Regions from separate parts of the Homo sapiens genome. Here region 1 is linked to region 2. A link means that fine-mapping ties the variant in region 2 to the expression of a gene that starts in the linked region. Tissue or cell type: whole blood. Region 2 holds a variant in brackets; the other region holds the start of a gene. All regions are shown on one strand. Distances are from middle to middle.

Evidence for each region. PIP is the estimated chance that this variant, and not a neighbour inherited with it, causes the effect.
Region 1: GCLC starts here. The variant in region 2 is fine-mapped to the expression of GCLC in whole blood (TOPMed, PIP above 0.99).

What each region holds. Positions count from the first base shown.
Region 1 is chr6:53,544,018-53,546,631 of GRCh38, forward strand. GCLC (glutamate-cysteine ligase catalytic subunit) reads right to left here and starts at 1,084. Exons shown (of 16, transcript NM_001498.4): 1 at 479-1,084. The coding sequence starts at 628. RefSeq lists enhancers at 1-509, 348-407 and a silencer at 628-1,057.
Region 2 is chr6:53,497,521-53,500,234 of GRCh38, forward strand. It overlaps GCLC (glutamate-cysteine ligase catalytic subunit), which reads right to left. Exons shown (of 16, transcript NM_001498.4): 15 at 2,525-2,645; 16 at 1-1,447. The coding sequence ends at 1,236. The region is part of intron 3 of GCLC-AS1 (GCLC antisense RNA 1); the gene reads left to right. Among named protein-coding and RNA genes, the nearest start is that of GCLC, 46 kb to the right of the region's middle. The variant GGGCT/G (reference allele first, on the strand shown) is at 1,169.

The DNA.
Region 1 (2,614 bases), 46 kb after region 2:
AAAAGACACCTGCATGAGGTAGGGCAGAAGTGGACATCCTGAAGACCTGATTTCTAAAAGCAGCAGGCCTACTAGGAAAACTTAAATCTCTTTCATATTGACCGCAAAAGCGAATTTTGAGCCTGTAAGGTGGATCATGGTAGTTGCCGGTCTGCAGATACACTAGGTTGAAGACTCGCAGCACCTAATGTCACTTTTTCATGCTCACGCCCTCCCAGCGCCCAATCCGTGTTTATGGAATGAAGGGGAAAACCCAAAAGAATGAATGAACAAGAAAGGAGTCTAGTCAGGAGGATGGCCCTGGACGCGGACTAGGCGAAAGCAGGGACGATGCTCCCGGGGCCGGGAGGCGCTCGAGGACCCCCGGGCGCAGTGGAGAACGCGGACCGCGATAGGGCCGGGGGCGTAGGGCAAGACAAAGGCAGCGCGGGCGGCCAGACACGGGTGCCCGGCGGGGACGGGGACCGCGGGCGCTCACCTCATCGCCCCACTTGAGAACGTCCTTGTGCCGGTCCTTGACGGCGTGGTAGATGTGCAGGAACTGGAGGATCCCGTGCCGCCGCACGTGGTCGGCATGGCGCTTGGTTTCCTCCCAGCTCAGCGGCGAGCCCTGGGACAGCAGCCCCATGGCCGCCCCCTCCTCCTCCTCCTCCTCCTCCGGGCTGACGGCGGTCGCCCGCTCCGGGCGCGAGACGGACACTCAGCCGCCCGCAGAAGGCGGCTGCCGCTCCACCCCGCGGGGGCGCTCTCGGGCCGCAGTCGGCGGAGGGAGGGTCCTGCCCGCTCCGGCTCCCCGGCGGCGGCCCCTGGCGCCCAGGTGACAGACCCTGGGTCCGACGCACCGCGCGGAGGCGAAGGCAGAAGACCGAGAGCAGGCGGGACGGCTCTCGGCCCGGCGGCCTCGCCCTCCCCGCTGCTCCTCCTCCCGCTCCGATGCGGCGGCGGCGGACCCCACGGCCGCGCTGCCGCGGCGGCTCCCGCTTCTCTTTGCCGGTCTGGTGCACTGGCTTCTTCCTACTTGTGACCAAAACCTGCGCCGCCGCGGAGCATGCCCAGTCTTTGCGTCCGCTAGCTCGCCGCTCCTGGGCGCGATCCTGCGCTCCAGGTTTTATAGACTACGGGCGAAGGCGGGGAGAGGAGGCGGTGCAGCGGCGGAGGCGTGGCCTGAAGCCCGGTGGGAACCGCGGGGGCTCAGGAGGCGTGTGCAAGGGTGATTGGGTCGCAGTTGAGGGGAGCAGCTCGCGAGAAGGGGGCGTGCGGTCGGCCTCGCTTTACGCAAACGCGACATATCAAAATGCATTTTTTTTCCTAATCAGAAGAGATAAACTTGGGATTCGGGAAGAAAGTTGATTATTTGAATCAATGACGAACTCACCATATTATGTTTTAGTTGGACAGGGCCTCACACTTAGAGTGAGAGCGGCAGAATGTGTTGAGAAAAGTATTAACATGGTAGTGAAGTGAAACAGTTCAACTCTAGGCTCCATCACTTACTGACTGTGAGACTTGGGACGAGTTCTTCCCATATCTGCATAAAATTAGATTAATTCTATCTTTTATAGATGTCGTAATTATGTGCATAGTGTACATGTGTATAGTGTTGGCCAAAAAATTGACCTGGTTATTAAGAGGAATCAATTTGTCAACATGTGTAAATCATTATTCCCTACTGTCTTGATTAACTGGTGACCTATGTTCTCTGGATGGCACGGACACCATTTATTGCAAAAAGTCTCCAGACAGACCATATGAGGAACCATCTCCAAAAGTTTATCCTCCATCTAAACCTAAAATTCATCCCTTAAGTGATCAAAATGACGTTCTTGTGAGCCTACCGTGGGGTGGGGTTGAAGATAGTGGGAACACCTAGAGTTGGCCTTATCTCGGAGGGAAAGGAGAGGAAGGAGGTACCGTGCCCCCAAGTGATTGTTTAATAAATATGTGTTGACAGAGCAATGACCTGTCAGGGGAAAAGTGAAGGCAACTAGATCATACATGTACCTACCCAGAAAGTGTGTATTTATCATACCCTCTTCCCTCGCACTACAGAGTTAACATTTAGTAAGCACTTATTAATTGCTAAATGAGTGAGTACATGATAGCAGGATTCTCTTCTCCCACAGCCTTCATATTGGATGTGCCCCTCACAGGGCTTGGGGGCATGAATACCCAAGGTCTGGCTGGGATTTCCACAATGGTGTGTGTGTGTGTCTGTGTGTCTGTGTGTGTGTGTCTGTGTGTGGTAGGGATGTTTGAAGCTCAGGAGAAGATGTTTCCATCCTCATCACACAGGTGGGATAGAAATCAAACCACATTCTAATTTTTCCACAGCCTTTTCAACAACCTCCTTTGCCCTCCCACCAACCTCACCAGATCTGTATATGGTTCTGGCACTCTGTTGTTTTTCCTGCTTGAAATTCTCCATCTGACACACTCATGTTCATCTCTTGAGTCACAGTTATTCCTCTCTGTGTTTTGGTTGCATTCGTACATTAATGATAGAGTCATTTTAAAGATAGCTCCACACTAAATAGTGAATTCCTCTGGGGCACAGATGACTTATGCCTTTTGTACCTTTAATTCTAGAAAAGTGCTTGGTATAGAGTGTGTGCTT
Region 2 (2,714 bases):
GTTAGCTGAAGCAGCTTTATTGCAATCTCTTCAAGTTAGCATATTACAGTTTAAATATTTATGCCTGTAAAGATCTGCATAATCTACAATACAGAGTTATTTCAGAAGCAGTTGACTTAACTAGTTGAGAAAAAAAACAACAAACTTCAACGCAAAGCTATAATAATTATCTGAAACTTATTTACAATTAAACATTTAGGGTCCTGATTTACAAAACTCAGTGCCTTTCATGATTTATTGATGAGTTTTATAGAGAAAGTAAGCAGTATGTAGAATATTCCCCAGGTAAAATCTGGAGTGAATGGCTTTTAGAGGAAAGTCTATCAGTATGCTTAACTAAAAACTAAAGAGTGACAAAACTGTATACAGCAGCAATCAGAATAACAGGCCACAAGAGAAGAACGCCATTTTTGACAATATCCTTTGTATGTATAGGAAGAAAAATGATTGCCACCCCCCACCCCTGCCGCCAACTTTTTTAGTTAAAAAAAAAAATTGTCCTTAATAATCACTACATGTGAATTCTGGGTAATAATCTCCTTTCTTTCTATAGAGTTGTGTTTAAACTTAATTCCTGCATCAGCAAATTTAAACAAAGAAAAGTTCCTTTGATAACAGCCATCAGAGTTCAATGGGTATTTATTCAGAGGGGAAAGCTTGGGGCAAGGTGACCAAGTGATTATTCCAATTGCAAAAGAAACATCATAGATAAGGTGCTAGAAACCCAAGATTACCCTTGAAGCACTTTCAATGGATTCAAGTGATTTAATGTAGACAACAAAGGAAATGACAAAGGAAAATTAACGAGAGAAAATGTTTTTAAAGAGAAAAATTTCAATAAATCAGGTCCCAGGTAGTCTTTAAAAGAACAAAAATTTACAGTAAACATTTTAACTCTGGAATGCAAGTATTGTACAATTACCAGTACATTTACAAAACTGCTTAGACAGTAGGTTGCTCCAGAGTAAGAATTTAAAAATGTACAAGCCAGTTCATGATGACTTTAGATATGTTATTAAAATACATTGTTAATCAAAAATACTTTACTATGTACATGTACACTGTATAAACTCTAGATTTACCTACCAAAGAAAGCCTTAATCAATTTCTGGCTCACTGGCCCAGAAAACAGTACAGTTCTATCATTTGGTCTTCATATTATACACAC[GGGCT/G]GGCTGAGAGGCATGGTACTGTAGCCAGTTCGTCAATAATGCATTTTTCTTTCTGTAGAATGTCTAGTTGGATGAGTCAGTTTTACTTCCACTATATTTTACTTTCCTAAATGCTGATCCAAGTAACTCTGGGCATTCACATAATTCATTTGCAATTTGGTTACACTTCAAAATAAGGCTATAATTCATTTCATCAGTTATGACACTGTCTTGCTTGTAGTCAGGATGGTTTGCGATAAACTCCCTCATCCATCTGGCAACTGTCATTAGTTCTCCTGTGGGCGAGGGGGGAGCGAAAAAAAAATTAAAACCACGTAAGTTTTTTTTTTAATAAGTTGATATTTAGTGGTCAGCATAAACACAATTCTGGAGAGAAATCAATATGTCCTTTTAGTGTAGCTGCATGGCAGGGGGTGGGAACATCTTTCATAGCGTTTGAAGAACTCCTCCTGGGCAGGAATTCTAGGTTGCAGGCAGGCAATGAGAACACATACATCCAGTTTCTATGGTACCTGTTAGATGCCACCCATATGCTGACACTGCCAGCTCTTAAGGAACAGGAGCCAGCACATGTGTACAAGAACATGTGCCCTCCCATTTGGCCAGAGGGCTAGGACTACAAATGCCAGTGTCATGAGACTGCCTCAGAGGACTGTAGGGTCCTTGAGCGATCTTTGATCAAAGAGGTGGAGAGAATAAAGAACAGTAAGTAGAGTGAATGAAGTGGGAAATTGGCAGTATACCATTTGAGGGGTGAGGTAGGGTTCTACGGCTATCCTTTGTGACTCCAGAAAGTTTACAGAAGCCTTGAGTTAAATACAGATGCCATTACCATTATTGCTGTCACTTTATTAACAGCTGACAGCTCCCTTGTGCCAAGTACTGTGTTAGCAGTACTTGGTTACTGTACTGTATTGTAAATGTAACCTCCTCAAAACTAACAAAGAAAGGGGATTCTCAGGAGCCTCACTGTATGTACAAAGGCAGGCTAAAGAACTGTTCAGCTTATTTAACTTACAGAGTTCCTTAGCCCTATAAAAGGGCCCATGATGATGTAAGATCAACACAGTTGGACGTAAATGATAAGTAAGCAATCCAGATGCCATTTCATCATCTAAGATGCCAGTGATTTTCAGATGCACCCCTATTTTATGAACTGATAAGAAAAAAAGCACTACTAATCTAAATTATGAGTGTCAAAGATTATAAGGTGAATACAATTGCAGAAATATAAAAATGTGAAACTGTGCATGAATACAGCATTATTTTAAAAGACTACTTTAAGAAATTGAACATTCTAAGATTATACCATGCTGTCTATATTATGAGATTAAGAAAAATAGATATCATACCAGATGCTCTCTTCTTAATTAGCTTTAGGTAGTTCAGAATACTACATCTGGTGTCCACATCCACTTCCATGTTTTCAAGGTAAGAGTTCAGAATTGGGATCAGTCCAGGAAACACACCTTCCTACAAGAAGCAGGACACTTTATGAACTCCCTGCCGGGGGATGTGCACAGTGAGGGGTACTGTACAGGG